3 linked regions of the Homo sapiens genome follow. The protein of the gene in region 1 purifies or fractionates together with the protein of each later gene. This does not show direct contact. Each region holds a gene or a part of one and is shown in the gene's direction. Other genes may lie near its edges. The genes, in order: KMT5B, CARS1 and OGDHL.

Region 1 (3,649 bases):
AAAAAGAGAAGTTACTGAGATAACAGTGAAATAAAAATATTAAAATAACAGATTGAAAAAAGAGAACTTGCGTATCCAGGTGATCAGTATTACTTGAATAGTAGTAATCAAGACTATTGATTGTTGTTCTCTTCTCTTAGATCTTTGCTCTGATAACCATGGCTGTTTTTAGGGTATTAGCTCTTTCTCAAGATCTGTTAAGATGGATCAGTGGCGCAAGGATTGTGGCAGATAACCCATTCATTCTTTTGATTTCTTTCAGATTTAGGCCTATTAAAGGAAGGCAGGAAGAACTAAAGGAAGTAATTGAACGTTTTAAGAAAGATGAACACTTGGAGAAAGCCTTCAAATGTTTGACTTCAGGCGAATGGGCACGGCACTATTTTCTCAACAAGAATAAAATGCAGGAGAAATTATTCAAAGAACATGTAAGTTTATTAAGACTGATGCTGTTAACCTATTTGGATAAGAATAGTGAAGTAAATTAAAACCCTAAATGTTAGTTAATACTGAAATTTTAAATTTATTTTTCATAAAACTAATCAGTCTGAAGATCTTGTAACACATACAGTCATTTGGATGACAGTCCAGAGAAAAAACTGGGCCAGGCTCAGTGGCTCATGCTTGTAATCCCAGCACTTTGTGGGGGCTAAGATGGGAGTATTGCTTGAGGCCAGGACTTCGAGACCAGCCTGGGCAACATAGCAAGACTCCATCTCTAAAAAAATAAGAATAAAAAAATTAGCTAGGCATAGTAGTGTGTACCTTTGTAGTTTGTAGTTCCGGCTACTCAGGAAGCAGAGCCAGAAGCATTGCTTGTGCCCAAGAGTTAGAGGCTGCTCTGAGCTATGATCATGCCACTGCGCTCCAGCCCTGGGAGACAGAGCAAGACCCTGTCTCTAAAACCAAAAAAGGAGAGAAAACTTTGTCATATAGAGGTGAAATTCATTATGAGCCTTAAGGGAAACAAGCCATTAGGTACTCATACAGAGTGAGTACCCTTAACCCCAAAATTTGAAATGCTCCAAAATCTGAAACTTTTTGAACACCGACCTGACACTCAAAGGAAATGCTCATGGGAGGATTTTGAATTTTTTGTTTAGAGGTGTTCAGCTAGTTACTGTAATGCAAATATTGCAAAATGAGAAAAATTGTGACATTCAAAACTCTTGAGTAACAATAAAGTTTGTTACCTAATGATCTTACTTTTTTTGTTTATTTTATTGTTTTTTTAGAGGCAGAATCTTGCTCTGTCACCCAGGCTGGAGTGCAGTGGCCTGATTATGGCTCACTGCAGCTTCCATCTCTTGGGCTCAAGTGATTCTTCCTCTCAGCCTCCCACGTAGCTGGCACTAAAGGTACATGCCATCATGCTTGGCTAATGTTTTTCGTAGAGACAGGGTCTCGCTATGTTGCTCAGGCTAGATCTTACATTTTTTTCATCATTGCGGGTGGTTTGCTTTTATAATTGTAAGAAAGTCTAGCAGGGTATACCATTTAAAGTCATTATCAATTTTTTTTTCCTGTTTTAGGTATTTATTTATTTGCGAATGTTTGCAACTGACAGTGGATTTGAAATATTGCCATGTAATAGATACTCATCAGAACAAAATGGAGCCAAAATAGTTGCAACAAAAGAGTGGTAACTATTCTACTAGTATAAGCCTTTAATTTAATTTAAAGTTCTCTTCTAAATTATTGTTGAAGTGCTGAGAAATTCATGGTAAGGAATGAAGCCAGAGTTTACCCTGAAGTAGCCAATGCATCGCCGTTGCCTTGGCCCATCAGCTGGAGTCAGAGTGGGGAAATCGGAAGTCTCAGTTGAACCAGATCCCATCTCTAGGCCAAATTGCTTTTCATTTTCCTTTATTGACTCTGGATGCCTGTTCAGTGATATGATTGCTGAAGAGTTGTGGATACCGTGATTAGATAACCTGGCTTCCACAGTCAGTCTTCTACTGGCCTAGAAGAAAGGTTGGGGCTAAAGTTTTAATGATCCTAGTTTTATGGGTGGAAACCTCCCTAAAGCATTAGTTGCTTAAAAATACATACATACAGATATATATATATGTATATATGCCAGCTTCAATAAAAATAGTAGAGTTGGTGGGGGGCATTGGCTCACGCCTATAATCCCAGCACTTTGGGAGGCCGAGGCAGGCAGATCACTTGAGGTCAGGAGTTCAAGACCAGCCTGGCCAACATGGTGAAACCCCATCTCTACTAAAAATACAAAAATTAGCTGGGCGTGGTAGCACACACCTGTAGTCCTAGCTACTCGGGTGGCTGAGGCAGGAGAATCACTTGAACCCAGGAGACAGAGGCTATAGTGAGCTGAGATCGCGCCACTGCACTCCAGCCTGGGCAATAGAGTGAGACTCTATCTCAAAATTAAGTCAGAGTTGAGCCCAGCTAAAAGGGATAAAAGTTACAGATGAAAGAGAATATACTACTGTATCTTCTTTCCTATCATGCCTGTTCCCTATGTTATCTCCCAGGAAAAACATGTAGCTCCTCATGTACCCACCCTCTGATATTTCTACCACAAAAATTTGGGGGGTCAGATATCTGAAAATGGATAGGTAAAAGAACTTTATTGCCAGGCCTCTGGGGTGAGTGTGTGTACATGAAATGTGCTTCATTTACCTCAGGATGTATTGAGCCTGCTAGTTGGATTATGTGGCTCCCTGTGTTGCAGATGGGTGTGTAGGTTTGAGATCTAGAGTCCTAGAGCTGTACCGTCCGGTACAGTAGCCACCAGCCCTTGAGTCCTTGAAATGTAGCTAGTCTGAATTGAGAAGCGCTGTAAGTGTGCTATACACACCAGATTTCATATTAAATTTTATTCCCATTCATAGTTCTTATATTACCTACTGAAATCGTATTTTGGATATTGGGTTAAAATATATTGTTGGCTGGGCATGGTGGCTCATCTGTAATCCCAGCACTTTGGGAGGCTGAGGTGGGCGGATCATGACGTCAAGAAATCGAGACCATCCTGGCCAACACGGTGAAACTCCATCTCTAGTAAAAATACAAAAAAAAAAAATGAGCTAGGTGTGGTGGCACACACCTGTAGTCCCAGCTACTTAGGCTGAGGCAGGAGAATCACTTGAACTCAGGAGGCAGAGGTTGCAGTGAGCTGAGATCACGCCACTGCACTCCAGCCTGGGCAACAGAGCGAGATTCCGTCTCAAATAAAATAAAATAAAATAAATTGTTAAAGTAATTTCACCTATATTCACTTAACTTTCTCAATGTGGCTGCTAAAAAATTTAAGATTGAAAATTTGGCTTGCATTATATTCCTAGCAGATGGTGTGCTCTAAAGAGTGGCACCATGATTCCGGATCCTCATAACCCTTACTGCCACTGGTCCCTGCCTGCTTCATCCAGCAGTCAGAAAGTTTAATTCATTGCCGCAAGTATTTGAGTACTTTCTGCTTGCAAAACACCACACCAGGGCATTCAGAGACATAGGTGGCATAGTCCCTGTCCTGGTTGAGTTTCCATTCTCTTGCAGGAATAAGATAGGTACACAAGTAACCATGGCACAAGGCTGTGGAGCTCCAGGGTAGGAGAGAAGATAGCCAGGTGGGGATCCCAGTGAGCTAACTAAAGTATAGACAGCTAGGCCTTTTCAGTTTCTG
Region 2 (3,649 bases), about 65 Mb from region 1:
ATTCTCTTCAGACTCACAATAGCTCAACCCAGTGAGTTAAGGCAGACGAGAATAAAGCTGATGCCCTTCGATGTTTTCCCCAGAGCCACATGAAATGTTTGCTCCTCTATGAACTCAGGTACCATGTTTCCGGGTATTTGAAGAGCCTTAGGCAGTACCCTTGGGGTGGAGATTAAGCCATTTCCAGTGTGGGTGCTCTGGGTGGCAATATTGCTGTCTGATCACCCCACAGGCTCATTGTGAGGGATGTTGGATGCCCCTAATAATGAATAACCTCCCTCCCAGTAAGGAGGAAGATGGAGATGCTGTTCTTGGGGGTGAGAGAGGATGCCTGGGGGCCACCTTTGTGAACGAGTTGCAGCTGGACCTCCGGGGCTGGTGATCAGGACGGGGAGTGGGAGGGGAAGCCCTCACCTGTGGGAGGAGGCGCTGGTCTCTGGGAGTGGGCAGTGTTGGCTCCTAGTTGGTGAGAGCAGGGGTGCATGCCCCTCTCTCCTCCCCACGATTCATGTCTGGGGGCTTTTTCCGGTCCCCTTTCTGAACACTTCTTGGGCAGGGAGTGGATCACTGGGAAGGACCCAAGAGGAGCAGCTGTAGAGGGTGGGACCAGGGGAACATTTGCAGAAAGGGAGTAACCTGCAGGGTGAGATGTTGCCTGGACACCCACAAGATGAGGACCCTGGTGGGACCTTTGAAGTAGCAGGGTCAGAGGGCAAAGGGTCAGGGTGAGTGAGGGGTGCAGACCCCCACCAAACCGGGGCACTTATTAGGAGCTCAGACCTGCTGTAAAGGGGTCTGCATTTTAGCAAGCTTTCCACCCATGGGGAAGCTGGTTTAAACCTCACTTGCTGGGCCCACCCCAGAGATTCTGATTTGGCAGGTCTCTGGTGAGCCCAAGAATGTGACTTCTCTGGATCCCCCAGGTTCTGCTGCTGAAGGCACACCAGGGCCATGCCTGGAGTGGACCTGGGAGAGCCTCAAGGGAACGCAGGAAGAGAAACAGGGCAGCCGGGAGAGGTTTAAATGCTTACAGGAGGCCAGGCATGGTGGCTCACGTCTGTAATCCCAGCACTTTGGGAGGCCGAGGTGGGTGGATCACCTGAGGTCAGGAGTTCTAGACCAGCCTGGCCAATATGTAGAAACCCCGTCTCTACTAAAAATACAAAAATTAGCTGGGCATGGTGGCGGGCACCTGTAATCCCAGCTACTCGGGAGGCTGAGGCAGGAGAATCGCTTGAACCCGGGAGGCAGAGTTTGCAGTGAGCCGAGATCATGCCACTGCACTCCAGCCTGGGTGACGAGCGAGACTCCGTCTCAAAAAATAAAATAAAATAAAATAAAATAAAAATAAATAAAAAATAAATGCTGATAGGAAAGAGCCAGAGAGAGGGAGAGGTCGCACTGCCACAGTTGTTTGACGTGTCAGGGTTGTTGTTCATTTGGTGTGGCTTTGTTTTGGTATCTGTGCTGAGCAATTGCTTGGTACTTGCATGTGATTTCAATAAATGTTCTGTAGAGACTCCACCTTTGTAGCCGGTGACAACCACCATCCACCTTTGGGACATTCCCATGTCCCTCAATGTGTTGATGAACTGAACTGCAAGGTCATCCGGTGGTGGACATTCCTTCTCATGGGGGCAGAGCAGGAGTTTCGGCACGGAGCGTGCAGGCTCTACGATGAGGGCCAGTGTCGAGGAACAGGTCCCTGGGAGGTTTTCAGTCTGCTCAGAAGTGTTCTCATCTGATCTCAGCATCAGACTGATCCACAGCCTGGCTCAAACCCATGACCACTTGAAAGCTGACCTATTTTTATTTGTTTCCTCGAGACACACTTAAATGCAGCTACCACGATTACCCAAATGACTGTCTGCGTCCATCTCATGGAAGCCTGTCATTCTCCTGTGCTTCCCTGGGCACCAGCACCTTTCTGCTCTGAGAAGATCCTTCCCAAGCATGGTCTTGGTTCCCTTTTGATGAGCCGTCTAGCCTGCTCTAGACGGTACATTTAAGAATTATGTGATCCAAGATCAAGGCAGATTTGGTAATAAACTTTTAAAATAATAAAATTAATTAAATAAAAATGGGTGTGTGAGCCCTAGGAAAACTCCAGGAAATTCTCTGTGTGTAGCATGCGGCTATTACAATAACATTAATAATACCAGAGCGATTATGATAATAATGATGGCAAATGGGGCCCCTGGCTCTGTGCCAGGCAGCTTTTAAACATTTTACAAGTGTCATTTGACTTAATGGCCTGCAGCTTTACAGGGCTGATGTTATGAGCGTGTTTTACCGTGAGGAAATGCCGCCGTGTGTGTGAGTGTAGGTACTCAGCCCTGGAGGGCGTCGGGGCCGCCCCTCAGGTCTCCAGAGAGCGGATACACAGCGGCTTCAGTTCCCAGACTGCTTCCTCAGCGCTCAAAAGCCACTGCAGCCGCCGTTAGGACATTTGATGTTTTTCTCATTTTAAAAATAGCAGATGCTTACTGCAGAAAATGTGAGCAATGAAGAAAAAGAGGGAATTAAAATCACCTGTCACCCCCTCTCATCAACCATCGTCACTGTCAGTGTTCGGGCTGTTGCTGGTGGTCTCTCCATCAGAATCCATTCTGAGTGTGAGAGGCACGTGACTGTCAGCTCGCTGTCTCAGCTGGAAGCCGATGCTGTGTCACTGTTTCTCAGGGTGCTGCTGTTGTCTCTTCTTCCCTCTTGCTGTCGTGGAGTCCAACCCAGGCATGAGCAGTTGCAGAAGACCAAGGCTCAGGGAGGGGACAGGGGAGAGGAATGTGGAGGGTCAGCATTGGGGAACAGCTTTCGAACTGTGGCCTGATCTGTGAGGGGACAAGGCTCACCTTCCAGCTCTGTCCATCCCTCTGGCAAGTTCTCTAATCTTTAGTGAACTTCATTTTCTTTATCATGAAATGGGACCCCTGCTGGCAGCTGCAGAGCTGTTGGAGGGAAATATCCAGCTAAACTAGAAGTCTCCTGGCTGGAAGTTGCTCTGCAAAAGAGTTTGTAGGAGTCTGATATTTATTTAGAGTTAGTTTTCCAGGACCTCACTTTGGGGTGCTTGGAGCTGCCTCTGTGGGTCTGCCTCCGCCTCCGTCCTCCCTGATCTCATCTCCAGCTGGGAGGAGAGCGCATCTCCATGTAAGCAGCCTCCTTCTTCTCAGAGGGAAGCCCCGGCAGTGTCAGTGCTGACACTGGGCCTGTAACTGTGGGGATGGGGCAGGTGAGAGGCCCTCAAGAGCTCCCGGCACCCCCCAGGCGCCTTCAGTGGGGCCAGAGTCCACCCCTGTCTTTCTCTTTCCTTGGACTGTTGGAAGAGCTGAAGTGAAAAGTGACTTGTTCTTATGTCTCTGGTATCTTTGGGCAGCAGGGCTCCTGCTAAGCAAGCCCCTGGGGGCTCAAAGCAGCAGAGGCTGTGGCCGGTTCCCAGCACTGGTCCTTGTGCAGGTGTCTTTCTGAGAAGGGTGCATGAGGCCCAGTGCCACAGGGGAACGCCAGCCCACCACTGGTGGCATGCACTCTGTGGTGCCATTCTGCTGTCCACTCATCTGTGCCCTAGGCAACTTTAGCTGATATCTGGAATGTCACACGCTCAGTTGTAGATGCTGAAGATCGAGCAGTGAATAAGGTAGATGGAGCG
Region 3 (3,649 bases), on another chromosome or scaffold:
TCCCTGGGAAGGCACAGGTGACAGAGTGAGGTGAGATGAGCTGCAGGGCCTGGTTCCCCGTGGTCTGGGTGGGCTTCCAGTCTGTACCTGCCTGGACTGTTAGCTGTCTTGAGTGGCGCTGGGCTGGGCCTGGGGCTGCCTTCCATTCTACTCTTCCTGCCCCTCCAGACCTTAGCCCTTCCTGCAATGAAGTGGGGCTATTGTTGGGCCTAGTGTCACCAGCCTTCTGGCTGGGCCTGGGAGAGAGGGCACTCTGGCCCAGGATTGCAGTCACAGGGAGTCACTGGTCACTTTTGGTCGCAATGACTAGAGCCACAGCCCTCCTGAGATAGTGTGCCTCTATCACCCCCGACACCTGTGCTCACTGGATGCTTTTGCCCCTGCTTTTCCCTGACCATGCACAACACACCTGACCCCTGGAGGACTGCCTGCCCTGGTTCTAGGGTGGTGGGCCTGAGACCCACTCCTTCTTGGTGGTACTCCCTGCACCTGCCCTGTGGCTCTCCGAGTGGGCTCCAGGACCTAGGTGGGTGCTCCCTGAGGCAGGGCCTGGGGAGTTCATGTCTCTGCACAGGCTTTGGGGACTATCCGGGAAGGAGTGTGGTCTGGGATGAGTGTGGCACAGCAGGGCTGGGGCTCAGGGCTGTTTGATATCTATTGATAGAGTTTACTGAGCTGGGAGCTTCCACCAGACAGTAAGCCCAGGGGGCTGGGAGAGTGTCACATTCCCAGTCTCATCACTGCCTAGCCCAGCACCATCTGCCCAGTGGGAATGACAAGTGCTGATGAGCGGACAGTGGCTTGGTAGAGCCTCTTCCTGTCTTGGTCCTGCCATTTATGCCTCTCCTTCATTGCCTGTGTCCAGAATGAGTCAGCTGAGGCTGCTGCCGTCCCGTCTTGGGGTACAGGCTGCGAGGCTCCTGGCTGCACATGACGTCCCGGTGTTTGGCTGGCGCAGCAGGTCCTCCGGGCCACCGGCCACCTTCCCAAGCAGCAAAGGTGGAGGCGGCTCCAGTTACATGGAGGAGATGTACTTCGCCTGGTTGGAAAACCCCCAGAGTGTCCACAAGGTCAGCATCCCCACCCTACCCTGGGCCACCGCAAGGGAGGGAAGCCCTCGGGGGCCGGGCTGTGGCAGGGCAGTGGGGAGAAGCAGCTTGCCTGCTGTGTGATCCTGGGCAGGTTTCTTTGCCTCTCAGGTCCTCAGTCATCAAAGCCTGTTGCTTTCCCTTTGCTGAATCAGCCAGTGGGTGGTGGTTTTGATTGAGAGGCCCTGGCCATGTCCTGCTCAGCCACACCTGAGCCCTGCCGTGCCCCCTTTGTCGTGCTATGCTGCCTCCATATGCTCCTTTGTATGTAATTAGGGACATACGTGTTTGTGTATGTATTGATCTGATAAAATAAATACTTGCTGATAGTAAAGAAAAAAATTAAATTAGATGGGAGGGTGAAAAGTGAAGTTGTTCTCTGACCCCTTCACCTGCAGTGGAAAGCAGTGCAGTCACATGATCCAAAGCCAGAAGGTATAAGAAGTTACACAGTCAGAAAGCTCCCTCCTAATCTATCCTCATCTGCTCAGTTCCCACTGTCCCCCAACTTAGTGTCCTCTATATCCTTTCCAAGACTTGCATTAGGTAAACTTACTGCAAATGTAACTCTGGATTTGTCTCCCTTTACGCAAAAGTAACCTGTAACACATACTGTTTTGCTCCCTGCTGTTTTCGCTTGGTGATGTATCTCCAAGATCTTTCCATATCAGTACATGAAGAGCCTCACTATTCACTCTGTCCAGCTGTGTAGTATTCCATTGCATGTATGTGCCACCCCTATTCCTGCTGATGGACATCTGGTTCATTTCTAGTCTCTGACTGTGGCGAACAGTGCTGCAGTGCATCATCTTACACCTTCATCATCTTGCACCTGCAGAGCCATCTGTAGGGTAAATTCCCCAAAGTGGAATAGTTGGGTCCAGGAGTGGCTGTGTATAATTTTGATGGGTATTGCCAAGTTGCTTTCCATGGGGATTGTACCAACTGAGTCTCCCACCAGTGCCGTATGGGAGTGCACGGAGGAAAGCGCTTTTACATTGTTCTTATGGAAAACACATGCAAATGCCTGTGTGTGTTCACATCTGCTTTTTGCTTCTACACAGAGAGTAGCAGCCATACATCCTCTTCTGCTTCATTCACTTTAAAACGTATCTTGGCAATATTCCATGTCCACAATACTGAAAGCACCTTTTTAAAAGACTGTGTAATCTTCCAGATTCTAAATGTAAAATCGTTATTTAGCCAGTTTTCTATGGATAGCCATGTAGGTTGTTTTCACATTGTCAATTTTTGTAAACAGTTCTGCAGGGAACATCGTTGTATGTACATCTAGGCACCCTGGGAAGGCCCTGAGAGCTGTGGTCCTCAAGGAAGACCTGACACTCCTTGGGGCCCCAGCCTGGGCCACCCCTGACTCTTCCCAGGCCCTGACCTGGCTGCGTTCTTGTTTCTGCCCTGCCTAGTCCTGGGACAGCTTCTTCAGGGAAGCCAGCGAGGAAGCCTTTTCTGGCTCTGCTCAGCCACGGCCCCCTTCTGTTGTCCATGAGAGCAGGTCTGCAGTCTCAAGTCGGACCAAGACCAGCAAATTGGTGGAGGACCACCTGGCTGTGCAGTCCCTGATCCGGGCCTACCAGGTGAGGGGCAGCTGAGGCACAGCCTGGGAGGCTGCACTGGCTCCTGGGGTGTGGCCAGGCACTGAAGGGAAGGGGTCTCAGCTCCAACATCATCTCCCCAGAGAGCCCTTCTCCTTGTCCTCTACTGAGCGGCACCTACTCCTCTAGCCAGTCTTTGCCACATCACCATTCAGAGCACTTACCACCTGCTTGAATTTTTTTTTGTGCATACTGACTTGTGTCCTTGTGGTCTGTTCCTTGCACACACCATGCCCCGAGTACGTGGAGGAGCACTTAGTAAGGGATCAATTCCAAAGCCTGTTGAATGAGGGGTGAGTAGATTAACCCTTGTTAATTCTGTTTTCTCCTCTAGAATGGGCATCCTGGGAGAACAGGGACTGATACAGCAGGTGCCTAATTCATGTTTATGGAATGAATGGTTCAGTAAACAATTCTCCCCCACCAGTTGCTCCTCCTGGAGACTTAGGCTCTCCCATGCTGGGCCCCTGCTCTGTCAGAGTCCCAGTGATGGTGTGTGTTTTTGGTCTTGACCAGACAGGACTAATTGGAGGACTGCTGCGGTGTTCAGGCCATAACAAGCGTAATCATTTGGAATATCTCTGGGAACTGCTGGCAGGAGGTATTCCGTCAGGGAAATGTGAGGCAGCAGCAAGCCACAGCAAGGCTAGGGTACAGGGGGGCATTAGCAAATGGAAATGATGCTTTGCCTCTGAATGAGCTGCCCAATCTGTGGGATGGAACAGAGTTCCCTGTACACCACCCACCTGGGGATGGAAGAGGGAAGGTGAGCAGGGTTGGGTTCCCTTCTGGCCTGAGGACCCATCAATTGTGGGCCACCTAGGAGCAAACAGCAGCTATTGTGTATTGTGTCTTTCCTGGCTGGCTGAAAGAAGCAGACAGTGATCTAACCCTTGACTTCAAAAATGAAGAACAAGGATGTAAAACTGTATATTAAATACAGGGAAA

The links.
Region 2: the proteins of KMT5B (region 1) and CARS1 purify together in Homo sapiens (affinity purification with mass spectrometry; one large-scale study listed by BioGRID and IntAct). This does not show direct contact.
Region 3: the proteins of KMT5B (region 1) and OGDHL purify together in Homo sapiens (affinity purification with mass spectrometry; one large-scale study listed by BioGRID and IntAct). This does not show direct contact.

What each region holds. Positions count from the first base shown.
Region 1 is NC_000011.10:68,171,797-68,175,445, reverse strand, and holds part of KMT5B (histone-lysine N-methyltransferase KMT5B), read left to right. Parts: intron 1-262; coding exon 263-428; intron 429-1,532; coding exon 1,533-1,642; intron 1,643-3,649. UniProt on the Homo sapiens protein: Histone methyltransferase that specifically methylates monomethylated 'Lys-20' (H4K20me1) and dimethylated 'Lys-20' (H4K20me2) of histone H4 to produce respectively dimethylated 'Lys-20' (H4K20me2) and trimethylated 'Lys-20' (H4K20me3) and thus regulates transcription and maintenance of genome integrity.
Region 2 is NC_000011.10:3,050,917-3,054,565, reverse strand, and holds part of CARS1 (cysteine--tRNA ligase, cytoplasmic), read left to right. Parts: intron 1-3,649. UniProt on the Homo sapiens protein: Catalyzes the ATP-dependent ligation of cysteine to tRNA(Cys).
Region 3 is NC_000010.11:49,755,810-49,759,458, reverse strand, and holds part of OGDHL (2-oxoglutarate dehydrogenase-like, mitochondrial), read left to right. Parts: intron 1-865; 5' UTR 866-866; coding exon 867-1,070; intron 1,071-2,512; coding exon 2,513-2,683; exon of another isoform or gene 2,684-2,994; intron 2,995-3,649.